Regions from separate parts of the Homo sapiens genome. Here region 1 is reported to be linked to region 2. The links are microRNA targets in miRTarBase. Many come from high-throughput screens and were not tested one by one. Region 2 holds a microRNA gene; the other region holds the end of a gene's coding sequence. Distances are from middle to middle.
What was found. Region 2 holds the annotated microRNA hsa-miR-1302 (UUGGGACAUACUUAUGCUAAA, at 3,003-3,023, opposite strand). A microRNA usually pairs through its seed, bases 2 to 8, with sites in the 3' UTR of a target mRNA and lowers its output. Matches are read on the target gene's strand: a 7mer-m8 pairs with bases 2 to 8, a 7mer-A1 pairs with bases 2 to 7 and ends in A, and an 8mer does both.

Region 1 (5,000 bases), 89 Mb from region 2:
AAATGATAGCTTTTAATGTTTTAATAAACTGTATCATAGTATAGTAGTGAAACAACGTTGGTCCCTTTACTCACTCTCAATGCAAGTTAACTGCTCACCCATAATTCCTTTTGTAATGAAAATCATTAGTATTTAATTAGGTTTAGCTATGATGTGAAATAATTATATTTATTTATGTTTTCTTGTCTTTTTCTCTCCTTTTACACAGCTACTTCTGAGTGGAGGAGCAGACAATAAATTGTATTCCTACAGATATTCACCTACCACTTCCCATGTTGGGGCATGAAAGTGAACAATAATTTGACTATAGAGATTATTTCTGTAAATGAAATTGGTAGAGAACCATGAAATTACATAGATGCAGATGCAGAAAGCAGCCTTTTGAAGTTTATATAATGTTTTCACCCTTCATAACAGCTAACGTATCACTTTTTCTTATTTTGTATTTATAATAAGATAGGTTGTGTTTATAAAATACAAACTGTGGCATACATTCTCTATACAAACTTGAAATTAAACTGAGTTTTACATTTCTCTTTAAAGGTATTGGTTTGAATTCAGATTTGCTTTTTTATTTTTATTTGTTTTTTTTTTTTTTGAGATGGAGTCTTGCTCTGTTGCCTAGGCTGGAGTGCAGTGGCGCAATCTCAACTCACTGCAACCTCCGCTTCCTAGGTTCAATCGATTCTCCTGTCTCAACCTCCCAAGTAGCTGGGATTACAGGCACACATCACGATGTCCTGCTAATTTTTGTATTTTTAGTAGAGACGGGGTTTTGCCATGTTGGCCAGGCTGGTCTTGAACTCCTGACCTCAGGTGATCTGCCCACCTCAGCCTCCCAAAGTGAGCCACTGTGCCTGGCCGAATTAAGATTTGTTTTTGAAATGCTGTAAAAGGTTATATTGGAAATCCAGTAATTGATTGTTGAGATTTTTATTTCTGTTAGAGACTTAGATTTTTTTAAGTTAGCTATTTTAAAAAAGCATTCAAAAAGATTAATGAAAATTGTAATAGAGAAAAAGTTAGAAATTCAGTTCCTTTTGGCAGAATAAATGTTCAAGAAAATTAGGCTGTGAGGGTACTCAGAACATTAAAAAAAATGTAGGCTGGGCATGGTGGCTCACACCTGTAATCCCAGCACATTGGGAGGCCGAGGCAGGTGGATCACCTGAGGTCAGGAGTTTGAGACCACCCTGGCCAACATGTCAAAACCCTGTCTCTGCTAAAACTACAAAAATTAGCTGGGCATGGTGGCGACCGCCTGTAATCCCAACTACTTGGGAGGCTAAGGCAGGAGAATTGCTTGAACCCGGGAGGCAGGGGTTGTAGTGAGCTGAGATTGTGCCACTGCACTCCAGCCTGGGTGACAGTGCAAGACTCTGTCTCAACAACAACGATAACAAAATATTGATTCGGCAGGGCACGGTGGCTCATGCTTGTAATCCCAGCATTTTGGGTGGCCAAGGCAGGCGGCTCACCTGAGGTCAGGGGTTCGAGACCAGCCTGACCAACATGGTGAAACTTTGTCTCTACTAAAAAAAAAAAAATCCAAAACAAATTAGCCGGGTGTGGTGGCACACTCCTGTGGTCCCAAGTACTTGGGAGGCTGAGGCAGGAGAATTGGTTGAACCCAGGAGGTGGAGGTTGCAGTGAGCTGAGATCATACCACTGTGCTCCAGCCTGGGCAGCAGAGCCAGACTCTATCTCAAAATAAAGACAAGTAGATTGCCAATTTTTGAAGAATTCATCAAGATATTTTAAGGAAGGCACTTTATATTAAATATATGTCAGATCCTTTAGAAATTGCATACAGTTGGTTGGGCACGGTGGCTCACGCCTGTAATCCCAGCACTTTGGGAGGCTGAGGCGGGCGGATTGCCTGAGCTCAGGAGTTCGAAACCAGCCTGGGCAACACAGTGAAACCTCGTCTCTAATAAAATACAAAAAATTAGCTGGGCGTGGCAGCATGTGCCTGTAGTCCCAGCTACTCCGGAGGCTGAGGCAGGCAAATTGCTTGAACCCGAGAGGCAGAGGTTGCAGTGAGCTGAGATTGTGCCACTGCATTTCAGCCTGGGCAACAGAGCAAGACTCTGTCTCAAAAAAAAATAAAAAATTGCATTGCATACAGTTTTCACTGTAACCCTAATCTTTCCTCATGTGTAGATTAGAATAAATTTTTTAGACAAAACCTTTCATCAGTATTAAACATTCTACAGATTTTATGATATCATTAGCATTTATCTTTATGCATGTGTTATATAAAAATATTTAAAGTAAATGTATTTTTTAAATGTTATTTCCATTATTAATGGATTGATACTCCTTAAGTAGAGCATTCACAACCTTTTAGTAATATTTGGGAAATATGTTTGGTCTCATTATTAGATGGTATTACATCTCAAATGATGTTCCTGTTGCAGAAGTCTGCGAAACAATATCTAAACTTGGCTGCAGTTGAGAGCTAAACAGTGTATTGAACCAGTTAGGAGTTTAGTTCTCTGTAGAAAACCAGAGGCAGTCCAGGGCTGATGTAGGTTTTGTTCCACATTCTTTAGGATCCTAGGCTCCCTCCATCCCTGGTATGTGGTCCTCATTTTCATATAGACCAAGAGCTAGAGCTCCAGTTACCATTTCTTAAAGTATATTTTAATGCCAAATAGTGAATAAAGGTGGCCAGAAAATTCATGCACAGAATCCTTCTTTTTCTCATTTTGTGCTGATTGGTATAAATTTTATTGTATTTGTAGTCTCTGGAAATCTTCTAACTTTGAGAGGACAAAGATGAATTCCTAGTCCTGTTTTGGATGGTCTTCAAATGATCCTTAAGGGCAGTTATTTAAAATGTCTTTCTTAACTCACCCAACCTAGGCTGACCGAATGTAGTCTGTATAAACTAGATGGTTAAAGATAAAGAAGCCTATATATCAGATGCATAGACAAAGAATAAAATGGCATCCAGAACTGGTCCCCACCTATTCCCAATCCTGGTTCCACAGCAGAATACATTCATAGTTCAGGCATTCTTCCTTGAGATAGATATAATGTAAGTGACCAAGTCTCTTGGACAAGTATTGTCTCTGATCAATCCCTGCCAAACTCCTTTCCTTGGTTAACTCAAGTGGTTAGATCTTACTCCCTGAACAGAAGGAATATGAGAGGTCAATACATGCCTAGACTATTCAGTCCTCTGATATTGCTCCACACCCTTTCCCTCAAAAGCCATGAGACCTTTCAATGGTCCCAGTTCCTCTACCAGAACACCAGAGATGCCTGCTTTACATGGACTTATATATTCCCAAGAATCACTTGGATAAATGAGTGGTGCTGCTTTCCCGTGGTTGGGGAAAAGCTAGGAACCTGACAATGCAGTGCTCAGAACCTGCTGACCGGTACTAGTTATGCTGTCTTGCCATAGTAGTGCAGTTCTTTAAAATGTTGATACTTGCTCTCTTATCAAAGGTTGGTTTTTTTGTTTTTTTGTCAAGACAGGGTCTCACTATGTCACCCATACTGGAGTACAATGGTGTAATCTTGGCTTACTGCAACCTCCACCTTCTGGGCTCAAGCTGGCCTCTCACCTCAGCCTTCCAAGTAGCTGGGACCACACCCAGTCAATTTTTTATTTTTTATTTTTTAATTTATTTTTATTATTACTTTTTTTGTAGAGAGAGGGTTTCGCCATGTAGCCCATGCTGGTCTTGAACTCCTGGGCTCAAGCTGTCTGCCCACCTGGACCTCCCAAAGTGCTGAGATTACAGGCATGAGCCACCGCACCCAGCCCAAATAAAGTTTTAAGAAATTACTTGGCCAGGCATAGTGGGGCCTTTGTAGAAAAACATAGCTTTTCTATGAGAAGATGATCAATATTTTCTTTTCCTTTGAATTTGGAATTACCATTTTGGAACTGTTGTCAACAATGCATAATAATATATCAGAATGCTTCCTAGTATATTATTGGAGAAAGAACAAACAAAAGTTTAAATTGATATAAAATGCATATAATGGAACAAGCAACCCTGCAAAAAAAAAAATATATATATATATATACCATCTGGGAATTTCTGATAATAACATTGAAATCTGTTCACACAGTCTAAAATTCTTTTGATGTATCGTAGTTTTGAAAAAAAGGTAACAGTTTACTATATATAACAAATATAAGGAAAATATTAAATTTTTTGAAAGATACTAGTTTTTATTTTTGTTCATTTTTTAGAGACAGGGTCTCACTATGTTGCCCAAGCTAGAGTGCAGCGGCCCGATTATAGCTCACTGCAGCCTCTAACTCCCGGACTCAAGGGATCCTCCCACCTCATCCTCCTAACTAGGACCACAGGCGCATGTCACCACATCTGGCTGATTTTAAAATTTTTTTGTGGAGACAGTCTTGCTGTGTTGCCCAGGCTGGTTATGAACTCTTGGCCTCAGGCAGTCCTCATGCCTCAGCCTCCCTAAGTGCTCGGATTATAGGCATGCCACTGTGCCTGGCCAAAAATACAGATTTTTTAATAGATATTACTATGGCTCCTATTCTTAAAGGAAAAAATATGACATTTTAAGACTATATGCAAGGGATATTCCAATAATATCTTTTTTATTTAAAAAGCCACTAATTAGAATCAGATTTCATTAGGCAAGTGAAATCCAGATTTTACTAGCCAGAAACTGCCAGGTGTAGAAACAGCAAGAACATTTTAGTCACTTCATTGTTGACATTTTTGACTATCATAGATTAAGTATCAAACACAATAACAGTATTTTGTTATATGAACCAAATATATCTCTTTTTACGAGACATAGTCTAGCTCTGCCATCCAGGCTCAACTCCTGGGTTCAAGGGATCCTCCTGCCCCAGCTTCCTGAGTACGTACCTGGGAGTACAATTGCATGCTGCCACACCCAGCTATTTTTTTTATTTTTGTGGAGATGGCGTCTTGCTATGTTGCCCAGGCTGGACTCCAACTCCTGACCTCAAGCAATCATCTCACCTTGGCCTCAAA
Region 2 (5,178 bases):
TTTTTTTTTTTTAATGGAGGTGAAATTCACATAAGTTTGACCATTTTAAAGTGAACAATCAGTGGCATTCAGTACATTCACCATGTTGTGCCAACACTATCTCTATGTAGTTCCAAAACATTTTCATCAGCTCAAAATGAAACCTTGTACCCATGAAGCAGCCACTTCCCATTCTCCCCTCCCCTTAGCCCCTGGAAATCGGCTTTCTTTCTCCACAGATTTACATATTCTGTATATTTCCTATAAATGGAATTACACAATAGGTGACCTGTGTCTGGCTTCTTCCACTTAACCTAATGCTTTTGAGGTTCAGTCACATGGTGCCATGGATCAGCTCTGCCTTCCTTTTTATGACTAATACTCCACTGTATGTCCATATCACCATTTGTGTATTCACTCATTAATCTATGGACACAAGCCTCATTTTTAAGCACTTCAAATATGTTAACTCACTGAATCCTCACCACAAAGACAGATTCAGTTATTACATATTGATAGAGTGAAAACTGAGGCACAGGTAACATGCCTAGGATCACGTGGCTATGAAGCAGAAAGAGGACTCCAGCCGAGGCAGTCTAGTCCCAAAGTCCTTCCCTTCCTAGTAACCACTATGCTCTCCTGCCTCTCAGAGAACAACCCACATAGCACAACACGAGGGCTAAGCTGTCTGGTCTGTCTGGTGAAGCTTCAAATGCTGTTCATTTCAGATAAGGGGAGGTTCCTGGGCTGCAGAGGCTTCCTAGAGGAGGAAGACCATGTAAGGTCTAACTCAGGGCAGGTCAGGATGGTGTGAACTCACTCTGAACACAGTCACCGATGGGTGTTTATGAAAACTGGCTCTGGAACTCCCACAGGGAAGGTTCTTATCTTTGCGTGCACAACACAGAGCCCTCTGGGTAGACTTCTAGACCCAGGCCTCTTTCAAATACATTAGAAACCTCAGCAAGATAAACTATTTTCTGTCTGGCTGCATCTGTCTATCTGTTTAGAGAGCAGGACATTTCCATCCTCCTCTCTCCAGGCATCCTTGGAAGTCTTTCCCACAAGCAAGACATCTTGGTGAAATTTAATGCTGCAGAGGGAAATGGTTTTCAGGAGAGAGGAGTCTGTTCCCGGAACTGTAGCACAAAAGCTAGAGGCTGAGTAGGAACATCTTAAACTAAGTCCTCAGTCTTATTTCCAGTTTTCTTCCTGTAGATCGGGGCTTAGGACACCCTGTCACATTTTCTTCACTCCTCCACCAGGAATTCCTAAAGTCCATGCTCTTGGATCCTGGCAAATCGAGGAGGCTGGGGGATGTGGCAAGCTTCAGCAAGACTGCCTGGGACCAACCCTGCAGCCTTAATTTCCCAGGCCCACTCAGCCCAGCTGGCCAGCAAAGGCAGGCAGGGCTTCCGTGTCCACACATGAGAATGACCTGCAGCTGTTCTTTGTCCAGGCTGAGGTCCAGGATTCCCATTGCAGCTCCTAGGAAATCTTTAAAATTAGGTCGGGGATGAGGCTGTCAGTAGATTAGGTAGGGAACTTTTATGAAGTTGAGGGTGAACCATCTGGAGGGTGAACTGGCTGGTGTGATTTAGAACTGGGGGTGGTGCCTAGCAGTGCATTTGTGAGAAGACACAGCCAGGCTTGGTATATGATGTGGTGTGTGTGTATATTCACAGGCATCGTGGAGCATATACACTTTTTTTGTGTGTGTTGAAATAAACCTTACAGATTACAAAGTACTTTTTTTTTTCCCTGAGACAGGGTCTCTCTCTGTCGCCCAGCCTGGAGTGCAGTGGTACAATCATAGCTCACTGCAGCCTCAATCTCCCAAGCTCAAGTGATCCTCCCGCCTCAGCCTCCCATGTAGCTGGGACTACAGGTGTGTGACACCATGACTGGCTATTTTATTTTATTTTTGTAGAGATGGAATCTCACAATATTGCCCAGGCTGATCTCAAACTCTTGGGCTCAAGCAGTCCTCTCGCGTCAGCCTACCAAAGTGCTGGGATTACAGGCATGAGCCACCACGCCCAGCCAGATTACAAAATACTTTGACATCTTTTCTCTACAGCCCTCAAAAGGAGGCAGGGCAAGCACAATTAAATCCCATTACAAATGGGGTGACTGAAGCTCCATTCATGGCTTGCCCAGGGTCACACAAAGAATGAATAGCAGAGCCCTGAGCCTGTGTGCTTCCCTCTGTGCCAGGCTGCTTTACCCAGGCATGGGTGCACCTTGTGCATGGGACATTTCTCCTTTGTTGTGTCCTGAGTACCTTAAGCCACTCAGATATTGCTCAGGTGGAGTGAGGGGAAAATGTTTTCAGGTTGTATTAGTCAAAACAAAATACCACACACTGGGCGACTTTAAAATCATACATTTATCCCTCACAGTTCTGGAGGCTTGGAAGTCCAAGTTCAAGGTGGCAGCTGGACGGGTTCCTGGTGAGGGCTCTCTTCCTGGTTTGCAGACAGCCACCTTCTCTTCGCATCCTCACTTGGTGGGAAAAGACAGAGGAGAGAAAGAGAGAGAGAGAAATGAGATAGAGAGAGAGAGAGAAATGAGATAGAGATAGAGAGAGAGAGAGAGAGAGAGAGAGAGAGAGGGAGACAGAGAGACAATGCTCTCTTTTCTTACCAGATCTATAATGAGGGCCCCACCCCATGACCTCATCTAACCGTAATTACCTACCAAAGGCCCATCTCCACATACCATCACATTAGGGGTTAGGGTTTCAACATAAGAATTTGGAGAGGACATAAACATTCTGTCTACAACATGAGTGGAGATCCATCTCTTCCTTACCTCTGGTAAGGGGACCACACGCTGCAGCCAGTGAGACAGTGGCATGTTCTTGTTACAACTCAATCTAACTCCCCCAGAAGAGGAGGCAGGGAAGGCGGACAAAACTGGGAGAGGGAGAGAGTGTTAGGAAGAGAGTAGGGTGGCCAGAGGCAGCAAATAAAATATAAAATGCTTAATTTTGAATCTCAGATAAACAACCAATAATGTTTTTTAGCATAAGTATGTCCCAAACTAAGCTTGGGAAATATTTATGCTACGAAATTATTCGTTGTTTATCTAAAATTCAAACTAGCTGGGCATCCTGTCTTTTAATCTGGCAACCCTAAAAGGCAAGAGCCAAAAATGCCGGAGGGAAGCCAACGGATTCCAGGAGGGACAACTGCTGGACTTTGGACTGATGATGCTCTTTTTATATATTTAACTTTTTAAAAAAGCCTCTTTTCTTTCTTTTTACCAGCTTTTCACTAGCTTTTTAAAAATTGGGGTAAAACATACATAACCTAAAATTCACCGTCTAAACCATTTTTCAGCATACAGTTCAGTGGGATTAAGTAGATTCACACCGTTGTGCCGCCATCACTACCACTCATTTCCAGCACCTTTCCATCACCCCAGCCTGAAACTCTACCCATTGAACACGAGCTGCCCAACTCCGCCTTGCTTCCCCATTCCTGGCGACCACTGCTTCTGTCTCTGTGAATTCTGACTACTCTAGGCACTTCACAAAAGTGGACTCATACGATATCTGTAGTTTTGCGTCTGGCTTCTCTATTTAATTCTTAAAGGGGGGTGGGAACTAAACAGATCACAAGGGAGCTGCCCACAGAGGTAAAGACAAGGTCAGATAGGCTGAGAGACGCAGGAAAGCGGGTCAATGTGTAGGGCTGGAGGGCAGGGGCGGGCCCTGGGCCTGGGCTGGGGGTCCTGCCCCGGGGCGCACCCAGGGCGAGGGCTGCCCGGAGGAGCCGAGGCTGGCGGACAGCTTGGCCCTGAGCTTGAGGGGAAGGCAGCGATGGGACAAAGGACGGAGGTCTAGGAAGAGGGTCTGCAGAGCAGAAAGCACGGGTAGGGGCGGCCTGACGCTCGGAAGACAACGGATGGGAGCCGTGTGCACGTCGGGAGCTCGGAGTGAGCGTGAGTTCCGTGCCCAGGCCCGCGACTCGGTCCACCAGGACAGCGCTCCGGGTCGACGGGGTCCTGGAGCCGCGCTCGGGGAGGGCGCAGCGGAGGGTGAGCGGCGGCGTTAGGACCCGGAGGCGCGGGCGGAGGTGGCGGGGCTAGGACCCAGCGGCTCCGGCAGAGCGGAAGCGGCGGCGGGAGCTTCCGGGAGGGCGGCTCGCGGGTGAGGAGGCGTCCGGGGCCGCGGGAAGTAGGGTCGTGGGGGCCTGGCGGGGCGAAGTAGGGGACCCGGAGGGGCTGGAGGGAGGCGGGCGGGAGGCCCGGGACCGTTCCTGACCGAGAAGCCTGCGCCAAGCTGGTGTTCCGCGGCCGCTGCCCGGTGCCCGGCTCCACTGCGAACGCCGCCGCTGGGCCCCGACCGCCCGGGAGGCGTCTTGGGCTCGCCCCGGAGCTTCCTCCCTGGAGCCGCGCCCTGCACCCGGCCTTGCCCGGCCCTAGCAGGGAAGCCAAGGCTTGTGGGGCGCAGGGACCCGGGCTCTGCGGGGTCCCGGTTCCGCCTCCCCACTCCTGCGTCTTCCCGCCCCGGCCGGGTTCTGGGAAGCCTCGCGCGGCTCTTCCGCAGCTGCTGCCCGCCCGGATCTCCTGGTCCCTCGTAGGGGACCCCACTTCTCTGACACCGCGTTGGGTTCCCGGGGCCTACAGCGAGGCCTGTAACTCCGGGAGAGACCCTGGAGCGGGGTGTGGGAGAACGGTCTGGAGGAAGGGCTCCGAGCACTTCGAAAGTATAAACCGCGGTCCCAAAGAGGCGTGCTGTGTCTGCATTTTCCTGGGAGTGCACGGTTTACATTCTGTAAAGCAGTGCTGTCGACTAGAAATTTTGTGCGATACACATGTACAAGTTTTGTCACTTAAAAAGAATTTGAAAAAACTTCATAGATGCAAAAAAAAAAACCCACCATTATTAAAGAATACTTAGGCATTTGTGGAATGCATTGAAGAGTTAACAAAATGGATAGGCAGGAAATATCGCAGACCTAGAGTGAATTACAGTTACCCACTGTGGAACTGAGGAGCTAGGGTTTCTCATAAAACTCCCTGATAGGAGACGACTTTTGATAAAAATTTTTTTCCGCCAACAAAATCCCCTGTCTTCTCCACTAGTTATTGTCTGTCCACTAAATAAGAGGTGGTCCGTCACTTCTTCAGATGAGCAACTACAGGCTTTTCAAAAGATAATTGCTAATCAACCCCTTTGTGCCTGGGTTT

Region 1: the mRNA of WDR12 is a reported target of hsa-miR-1302. Seed matches in the 3' UTR shown: 7mer-A1 at 1,588-1,594.

The regions. Positions count from the first base shown.
Region 1 is chr2:202,876,146-202,881,145 of GRCh38, reverse strand. It overlaps WDR12 (WD repeat domain 12), which reads left to right. Exons shown (of 13, transcript NM_018256.4): 13 at 209-5,000. The coding sequence ends at 286. Among named protein-coding and RNA genes, the nearest start is that of ICA1L, 6.9 kb to the right of the region's middle.
Region 2 is chr2:113,580,002-113,585,179 of GRCh38, forward strand. MIR1302-3 (microRNA 1302-3) reads right to left here and starts at 3,095; the gene lies at 2,958-3,095. LOC124907875 (a long non-coding RNA gene) reads right to left here and starts at 4,029. Exons shown (of 3, transcript XR_007087204.1): 1 at 2,794-4,029; 2 at 2,367-2,484. It also overlaps the pseudogene WASH2P. RefSeq lists an enhancer at 3,396-4,227 and silencers at 3,629-3,808, 3,819-4,003.